Regions from separate parts of the Homo sapiens genome. Here regions 2 and 3 are each reported to be linked to region 1. The links are microRNA targets in miRTarBase. Many come from high-throughput screens and were not tested one by one. Region 1 holds a microRNA gene; each other region holds the end of a gene's coding sequence.
The links. The annotated mature microRNA hsa-miR-4258 reads CCCCGCCACCGCCUUGG and lies in region 1 at 2,031-2,047, shown strand. An mRNA with a match to its seed (bases 2 to 7 or 8) in the 3' UTR can be bound and repressed. Matches are read on the target gene's strand: a 7mer-m8 pairs with bases 2 to 8, a 7mer-A1 pairs with bases 2 to 7 and ends in A, and an 8mer does both.

Region 2: the mRNA of SNX9 is a reported target of hsa-miR-4258. Seed matches in the 3' UTR shown: 7mer-m8 at 1,163-1,169.
Region 3: the mRNA of KIAA1958 is a reported target of hsa-miR-4258. The part of its 3' UTR that is shown has no 7-base or 8-base seed match.

The regions. Positions count from the first base shown.
Region 1 is chr1:154,973,673-154,976,672 of GRCh38, forward strand. It overlaps MIR4258 (microRNA 4258), which reads left to right and starts at 2,021; the gene lies at 2,021-2,111. It overlaps CKS1B (CDC28 protein kinase regulatory subunit 1B), which reads left to right and starts at 1,009. Exons shown (of 3, transcript NM_001826.3): 1 at 1,009-1,132. The coding sequence starts at 1,074. It also overlaps a transcript of SHC1 not described here. RefSeq lists enhancers at 505-654, 1,105-1,254, 1,355-1,414 and a silencer at 745-834.
Region 2 is chr6:157,942,677-157,945,676 of GRCh38, forward strand. It overlaps SNX9 (sorting nexin 9), which reads left to right. Exons shown (of 18, transcript NM_016224.5): 18 at 115-2,401. The coding sequence ends at 162. Among named protein-coding and RNA genes, the nearest start is that of SYNJ2, 38 kb to the right of the region's middle.
Region 3 is chr9:112,659,498-112,662,848 of GRCh38, reverse strand. KIAA1958 reads right to left here. Exons shown (of 4, transcript NM_133465.4): 4 at 1-3,351. The coding sequence ends at 2,780. Among named protein-coding and RNA genes, the nearest start is that of INIP, 57 kb to the left of the region's middle. RefSeq lists a silencer at 2,154-2,354.

The DNA of each region.
Region 1 (3,000 bases):
AAAATATAAGCAGGTGGAGTTTCAGGGATTGACGACAAGGCTTTTCAGCTGATGACCCAGGTCCCACAAAGATAAAGCTCCTAAGGGGGCGTGGTCCCCTAAGGACGCGAACTTCAGACTTCTGGGCGGGGAGGCTTTCTGGACAGTCAGACGTGGATTACGGAGGGGGCGTGGCTTCGGAGGGGCGGAGCTTCAACAAATTCGAATCGTTCTTTGAAGAGCAGGGTTTTGCCCTTTTGGGAGATAGGCCTTTTGACAGGAGTTAGCCGAGGATCGTTGCTAGGAGGCGGAGTTTCGGAGAATGGAAGGAGTAACGAAGGGTTTCTCGTAGTAGGGCTTGGAACGTGTCGGGGGGTGGGGACTTCCAGAAAAACTGGGCGACAGGGTGGGGTCGGAGACAAAAAATAAAAATCAAGTCGGGGTTCGGGGGAGCCCCCTGAAGTTGGGAGGTGGGACTTCCGGGGAGAGGGGTCTCAGGGGCGGGACTTATAAATGAAGACCGGAAGTGGGGTCCCGGGAGAGGGGTTCCGGGGTGAAAGAGTGAGTCACCTAAGGAGAAAAAAGTCAAGACTCACCAGGGCCTCATGGAGTCTCCGCACCGCACCGCGGGCCGATTTGGTGCCGGATCACGCCACTGCCAGCTTAGGTTACCGCTCCAACTTTCTCCCCGGGCCCTGCCTCCCTGGAGAAACTTTATTACACTCACTTCCGGCCTCACTAACCCCTGACCCTCTACCTCAGGGTCCCTCCTTCACGCTTCCCACTTTCCCGAGTTAGCCAATGGCAGCGCGAGATCGCGCACAAAGGCAGTGGTGGCCAATAAGACGCCTACTTTTGACCCACGCTCGTTCTTGAGAAGCGTGAGAACTGCCCTCCAATAAGGATCCGAAGAGAAGTAAATCTAAGCCAATCGGAGGCTTGAAAGTAGAGGTGTCCCGCCTCGAGCCAAACGGACCAATAGGAAGTGCGGGCGGCGTGTTTGAAAGCGAGGCCAAAGTGGGTGGGAGCGCGTGCTGTTGGGAGTTGCTTGGAGGTTGGCGGCGCGGGGCTGAAGGCTAGCAAACCGAGCGATCATGTCGCACAAACAAATTTACTATTCGGACAAATACGACGACGAGGAGTTTGAGTATCGGTTAGTGCTGGCGCGGGAGCAATAGCGAGGGTCGTGAGCTTTGGCCGCTGAGGGCACAAGGAATTAGTAACAGGAACTGAGGCGATAGAATTGGCGCATGCGTACGAGGTGCGAACGGGCAATGGTGTGATATTGTGGAAGGCGTAAGGCGCATGCGCGGAGGTGGGAGGCGCTCGTAAAACAAAGTGGTTGCGAATTTGGAGTCGCCTCTCAGTAGAGAGGAGAGAGGGGTGGGCGTGGTTAGGGTACTGACCACCCTCACCCATGAGGCTTTCTGGATCATTCTCTGAACTTTATCGGGCAAACTTAACTTGCCTTGTAGAGACTGTTTCACAGTAATCTTGTCGAATCCAGTGGGAGAACGTAGCAAAAGCGGAGCTGGAAGTTTCCTGGCGTCCCTAACAGGAGAGTAGCGCTGAGAGAGTTGAATATTGCTTATTAACTCGTGAAAAAGACAAGGGGCGTGGTTGTCTGGCTTGTGTAAGGAAGGGGATCGCTTGGGACTGCAATGGAATAAAACTGGCTAGGAGCATTGAGAAAATACTTAATATGGGTCTAATAGATGCCCTTTAAATATCAAAGGGAACAGTTACGGAATACTTAACAGGTTTCAGGTGTTCTGCTAAAGTGCAAGGATAACACATGGTCTCTGCTGTTCACAAATTTAAAAATCTGTGGGTGGTACCGACAGACACCAGAAAGGTGACACACGCTATGCAAGGAGCCATTACAGGGTGTGATGGGAGCACACAAGACTTGCTAAGGAGAGGGAACTGGCGACCCGAAGGCTGCGGCTTCCTAGCTGTGAGCGGGGGTTGAGGTGGGGCTAGAAAGTCAGTCCCCTACTTTTGCTAACTCCAGGACGCTCCCCCATCCCACGCTTCGAGAACGCCCCCCGCCCCGCCACCGCCTTGGAGGCTGACCTCTTACTTTCGGTCGGTCTTCTTCCCTGGGCTTGGTTTGGGGGCGGGGGAGTGTCCTAAGGGCCAATTCAGCGTGATGTCTCTTTCACCACCATTGAAAACGAAACCAGTAGTAAACTACGCGTGTTTTCATTTATATGTCGGAGATAAAAACACAGGGACAGAAAGAGGGGAACAACAGACATTGGGGCCTGCTTGAGGGAGGAGGGTGGGAGGAGGTAGAGGTTCAGGAAAAAAAAAAACTGTCGGGTACTATGCTTAGTACCTGGGTGATGAAATAACCTGTACACCGAACCCCCGAGTCAGGATTTTACCTATATAACAAACCTGCACATGTACCCTTGAACATGAAACTTAAAATACTGAGAGGAAAAACGGAAGAGGGAATGTTGGGGAAAGCTTCCTAGAGGGCAGAGCCTGAGATGAGACTCTAAGAAAAAGGTATGTGGGAGGAAGCACCTCTTGACTGAAATTGTTTAGAAGACACTGGATAGCCATCTGCCAAGGATGGTGATGATGGAATCCTGGCACTGGATGTGGCATTCGGGCTTGATAAATTTTAAGTGCATAATCTAGATTGGGAATAAGGGAAGACACAGGATTCCACAAATGTTGGCATTATGCTAATCTGTATTAATTGTAATAATTAAGACCACTTCCTGGTTTGTATCTTGTCTCCTCAGTTGGAGAACATAAAATGAAAACTTGCTTTTCTTGTGTCTCTTCACCCAGCCTAGTTCAGGGCTTTGGGTCTTCCAGAGAACTCGATGTGCATTGACAAATACATAATCATCTTTATGCCAAGACGGCTCCAGACCCTCCTTTAATTAACTTTCTTTTCCTCAGCTGTTTTCCTCTACATCTGAACTAAACTAACTTAAAACTGTATGTGCTTATAAGAGATTTGTGGAGCTGGGAAGGAATCACCATTTCATCCCCTGGAAG
Region 2 (3,000 bases), not on the chromosome of region 1:
TTAAAGAATTGGAATTTGTGTCATGTTTAACTTGTTGGAGTTGTGAATAAAGAACACTGTGAGGTCGTAATGGGAGTGATATCTCAACGTTGTTTTGTTTTGCTTTCTTGTCAGATTGCAGAAAAGCTGAGGCAGGCCCTCAGCCGCTTTCCAGTGATGTAGGACAGAACGGGCCTTGAAGAGAATGCCGCGTGCTTTCTCCTGACTTGGGGCAATGCAATTCAAAACTTTTTTTCCCCTATTATTCAGAAAAAAAAGGAAACAAAACCAAAAAGAAAGAGTTGCAAAAAACTGCATTTATTTTATTAGCCACCCTAAATGCGTCAGTTATTTAGGGATGGTCTTTTGTTCATTTCCGCATCCATTATTTAAACCAGTGGAAATTGTCTCTATTTTTGGAAAGTACTTAAAAGTTACCAGAATTTTCAATGGAAAATGAGGGGTTTCTCCCCACTGATATTTTACATAGAGTCATAATTTATATGTCTTATAAATTATAAGTCTTATATAATTTATAAGTCTCCCACAATCTTCCAGTTCTTACCCAGTGTCAGATAATTAATTACTAATTACTTTCTTAAAAACATGAACTATGCCAGAATAAAAAATATCTATGTTTGTATATTTTTATAACTCCTTTCAGTCCTCTGGGGCTCCTGTCATTGAGGGAAGTCGTTACGCCTTTCACTGCCACAGTTACAGCTCAAGTGCTTACACTTCAAGAGGGAGGACGCTGGGGGCCCCTGGGGCTGCTAGTGCCATCGTGGTGTGTGGCAGGTGGGCCATCCCATGTCCCTCCAGGGGGACCCCACAGCCTGGCAGATGAGCAGATACCCCTGGCCACCCATGTCCTCAGCGACATTTCTGATGTGCTGCTCTTATGTGAGGACCAGTGCTTTCTCTCTTTGCACTTCCTTCCTAATCTTGGTTAAGGCATGTTTTATGCCATGAAGAATACATTAGAAGAATTGAGGGACTTTGTAGAGAATTTTGTGGCTTTGGTCCAACGGGTGAGTGGCTGTGCGGAGGCCTGTGTTCGGGAGGGCCTGGGAGAAGGAGGGCACCCAGCACCCCGGCGTCTCTGGCCCTTTCTTATTCTTTGGCTCCTCATCCACCGTGATGAGAAGCGCTGCTGTGGCCACGGCACACTGCTTGGCTTGGGTGGCGGGTTCATGGCCAGTTGGTGTCATCAGCAAAGAGAAAAAGCACAGGTTAGCTCCCCATTAGATGGAAAAGTGTAGGGACTGAGAAGGGCTGCAGCCTCAGCAGTGTACAGAGTCCCCGGCGCTCTGAGGTTGGAGAGAAAGAACAGACCAGCGCCCTTCCCGACTACATCCGAAACTTCACACAGGGTGTTTCTGAGCACCAGCACTTCCAGCGCTTCACTTAACGGCATAAAGCAAAACAGGACCTTGGCACACCGTCAGCTCGAACTCAACACTGGCAGCCACCGTCTCACCCCTGCGGAGGAGCGCTCCCGTCTCCCACAGGTGCCTTACCGCGTTCCCTCCCGCTGCTTTCATTTTTCTGACCTAATAATTACGGGAAATGGAAAGTCTGGGCCAGCATCAATAAAATGACACCAAAAATAAGTAGATGAAATCAAATGAATATGAGAACATCTTGTTCTTCAATATCACGGGTTTTTGTTAATGTTTCATAAGTAATTCTCCCCACTTGATTTTTCTTCTATAAAATCCCATAGAACAATGTTTATGCTATAGCCATTTAATATATGTACAAATTGTAAAGAATATGTATAAATGTTTTACACGAATGTAAGAGCATGTAGAAGCCAACATATAAATAAATTGTTTAAAAAAACTGTACAGTAAATTCTCAAAGCACTTTTTCAAAACACTTTTTGGACTTTGTGTGTGATTTTTGTTGTTGTTGTTAAGTACTTTTTATTCCAGCTGCTGAAAATGGTCCAGGTAATGAATTCTTCCCCAAATCCTATTTCTTCTGACATGAATTCATCATTTCAGTTCCGTAGGTCAGTGTTGCGGTCCGGGAAGCGTATCATAACCACCTGGGAGTTGCCAAGAAGCAGACAGTCTCCCAGTGTCTGACTCTCGGATATTTGGATTTGACTGGTGTGAGGCAAAGTGAAAAAGGGATGGGGGAAATGGAGATGGCACGGGCTCCTCAGAGCGTGGTAGCCGACTGTGAGGAAAAGCAGAGGGAATGTGAAAGAAAATAAGAGAATCCACGGGATTTGATGCCTGGAAGATTCTCCTTCAAGTGGCAACATGGCATATATATCCTTCTCCGGGGAGTCACATGCACCATTTGGTTCTTAGATACGTTGATGTTTTGATTTTTAATGATTTGTATCAACCTGTAGGTACCACAGAAGAGCTGTAGTCATACAATCACATAACTTTTACAAATATAGTGGAAAAAAAGTCAGTATTTGGAGAGGAGAGATGAAGGCGTGGTGGAAGAAAAGGTCAGTCTCGTTGTCAAGCAAGTGACGTCAGTTGCCTCCCACCAGGAGCAGCAGTCCCGGGATGTCAACCCACTGCATGGTTTGTAGGTGTTGGGGTCACCAAGAAAGATGACTCACAGAGGCACTGGGTGGAACAACGTAACTTGATTCATTTTCTTATTGGTGACTTTATTCACTTTCTTTCTTTTGTGGTAGCTTTATTCATTTTCTTATTCTGTCATTTTAAAAATGTTTTCTTACAAAAGTACCTGCTGGGTCTGGGGTTTGATGTTGCCCTACTTACAAGCAAGTAATTTAGTCTGTTGCTGTTCCATGGATACTGGAAGGGGCCATGAGACTCGTGGGTCTACTCACATAGAGAAGAGACAGCATGATCTACTTCTGTCATGGGCTTCAGTCCCAGGGAGATGGTCTGTGGGCACCCCCCATCCCCCCGCCCCCGGTGGGCAGCGTTGACAGGCTGTGCATGGCAGCCTCTCCCGGCACCACTGGTCTACATCTTCACTAAATCCATAGATCCCTGCCTAACAACTGGGAATCCAGAATCT
Region 3 (3,351 bases), not on the chromosome of region 1:
ACGGCTTTGGCCAAACACATGGACAGGTGCTTCGCCATTTTATTTTTTATTTTTTTTGAGATGGAGTCTAGCTTTGTTGCCCAGGCTGGAGTGCAGTGGCATGGTCTCGGCTCACTGCAACCTCCGCCTCCCAGGTTCAAGCAATTCTCCTGCTTCAGACTCTCAAGTAGCTGGGATTACAGGCACCTGCCACCACGCCCGGCTAATTTTTGTATTTTTAGTAGAGATGGGGTTTCACCATGTTGGTCCTGATCTTGAACTCCTGACCTCAAGTGATCTGCCCACCTTGGCCTCCCAAAGTGCTGGGATTATAGGCGTGAGCCACGCGCCAGGCCGCTTTGCCATTTTAGCAGGCTTACCAGGCTTAACCACATATTGTGCGTGTGTGTGTGTAAACACTTATGTATATGTGTTTGTGTGTATACACAGACACACACACATATACATAAATGCATAATAAAGTACCTAGTACAATGGGTGGCACACGCTGGCACTTGATGACTGTGTTTTCTTCCTCACTCTTGTTTCCCAAGGTGGCATGTCACAAACAGCTTTTAGGCTGCTCAGACACAGTTCTTTCATTCCATCAGATGCCACTGAAGATTCGCCCTCCTGATTATTAATTATAATAATTCACTTCAGAACCCAGGGATTTTATGGAACATCAACTAGGTGACAGGCAACACATTTGAGGCAGAGATGATTATTTAGCTGATGAAAAGCCACTACCAACAGAAAGATTACAACCTCTGGAGTAGTTATTGCTACCTTTGAAAAGGTCAAAATCCGAAAAGATCCCAGTGATTCCTAACGGCAATTTCTACTTGAATCTATTCAAATAAAAATGGAGGTTTTAATTAATTAGGCTGCAGGCTTTGCCCAATAGTTCACATAGGTTGTATTTCAGTTTAAGTGCAGAACCAACAAAACAAAATATCCTTTGGGTGTTTAGCAAACTAAAGGAAATTGTACCTAATGTTTTGTGTATTTCTTTTAAATCAAAACCCTAAGATCACTACAGGAAACCACACCAGAACGTTATGTGATATCAAGTCATACACTGATGATTAAATATTACCTGTTATTTATATACAGATGGAGAAATGCCGAAACTAATCTCTATTCAGGAAAGGTCAACTAGTAAACAAACTTATAAATGCACAGTGACTAAAAAGGGAATAACATTAAATCTTAAGGCAGCATTGGTTGAGTCTTCTCTGGTAAAGGAAGTATTACATATGTCAATGACTAGTGTATGATTTTTTAAGAAACCAATTAATTAAAATAAATACTAAAATAATGTTTTCAAAAAGAAAGAGGACTGATTTTAAGACTTCTACAAAATGAATTTGTATTAGAGTTTTAATTTGGGATTAGAAAGCATATTAGGAGCATAATGGAATAAAGTTACACAAGATTTTCCTCAAATGCAAAGTCAAGGTCCCTAGAAATTATTGTTACTCTTAATGAGCACTCTTTGAGCTCCTTTTTCACTTGTTGTTGCACTCAGAGTAGTTATTAGAAAATTCTGCTGATTTTTAAATAATGTGGTCAGGTTGCATTTTACCTGAGTGAAATGGTTTCAAACTGCATTACCTACCATTATGCGCTAATTTTATAACTACATCCTTAATGCTGAGTTTGCTTACCTGGTGGGGTGCCTAAATCATCGTGTCCCAAGTATTGGTGCCATCCTAAAATGATGACATGTAATTGTGGCTGAAAAGTCATACATTGACAAAAATATTCCAAATCTCTTTAATAAAGAAAGTTTGGGGATCTGTGTTTTTTGCAGCTTGTTTGGTTAGCTTTTCTTGGCTAAGACTAAAAATTACCTTTAGTTGTTTTATAGATCCAGTGGTATATGCTGACCGAATAATGGGATGACACGAAGAACAGACAGAAACCTCAAAAAATGTTCCAATCAAAGGAGCTCTCACATGGTGCTGAGAAATAAAACATAGGCACTTCTGCTTCAGGAGGTTTTCACATTTTGATCACAGATTGGCTTTTCCAAGCCATTTTCCTTCACTACTAGAAATTCCCTCATGGTACAAACTGTCTAGTTCACTAGAAGCCTTGTTCTCACAGACACCCTTCTGGTGCGTGAATCTTTTATCATAAAATTCTCTCCATTGACAGCCGAGATGGGGTTCCTACCGCTGCTGGGAGCCGTGGGAGCAGCCCAAGTCCTTGTCAGATGACCAAGTGTCGCTTGAGGATACTCCCCGACACAAGGCTGCCTGCCCTCCAGAACCACCTTATCCACCAACAGAAAAAAAAGGCGCATCAAGCGCAATCTGTCTCCTGGAAATAGGGAACGTGTCTGCCTCTCTCTAGTTTCTAATTGTGAGTGTAATTCAACAAAGTGTACAGTCTTCCTAACGTTCTAAAGCTACTGCGCTACTGGGATTTTTTTTTTAAACGACTACTTAACAGTTTCCTTTTTTGTTTGTTTGTTTTGAGAAAACCTGTGCTAGAAAGGCACTAGAGAAAATGAATTTCCTCACTCTTGTATGTAACAATTATACATTGTGTTAGATTCTAAAAGCTAACGAAGTTGACGCACATTTGGATAAACCATCCGAATGATTTAGACTCATCTAGTTTCATTTTAAAAAGCAAACCCCAAGTCAAAGGGAGGGCAGGCCACACCAGGGGAGAGCCGCCAGACCGGGAGGTCACACCTGGTCAGCCCCTGCCTCCAAGGAGCTCCAGCTGCTCCAACCCTGGCTGGCCCGAGCAGGTGACAGGGCAGTGGCCGGGCCCCAGTGGGGGCTCACTGGCAGCAGCTGTGGGAGCCAAGCCTCCGGGAGACCTGAGTGAACGAGACAAAGGTGAAGTTCTCACAGTTTTCCAGCTTGACCTTCTTGGCTAAGTTTGGGACAATTCCCCGAAGAGAGCGCAGCCCCATCCTCTGCTCCTCATACCACACGCTGCCCATGTCTGTGGCCTCCTTCCTGGCAGTCAGGTAGAAGGGGGACTTGGCCTCCATTTGGGTGGGCGGCCGGTGGATGTACATGTACTTGTAGAGGAGGCAGTAAGGGCACTGTTTGTGTCCCCGGGAATGCTCATGGTAGATCTTCCCGTGACACACTCTGGTGGAGCCGCTCCGACTCTCCCGCTTGACGCTGTCCGTCCGGGCAAAGTAGGGCTGGTTTTGGGGGTCTTTGAGCAGCTCGATGTCACCATACATCAGATCCGCATGCTCCTGCAGCGTCCGCATGTTCAGGTACTGGCTGTTGTACTTGACCACAGTGGACAGGAGAGTGATAGGGCTGTCATCCCCCAGACACCCTGCCTGCCACATCTCCTCCTCGTCAGAAAGGGAGAAGTAGACGATGTTGCGAG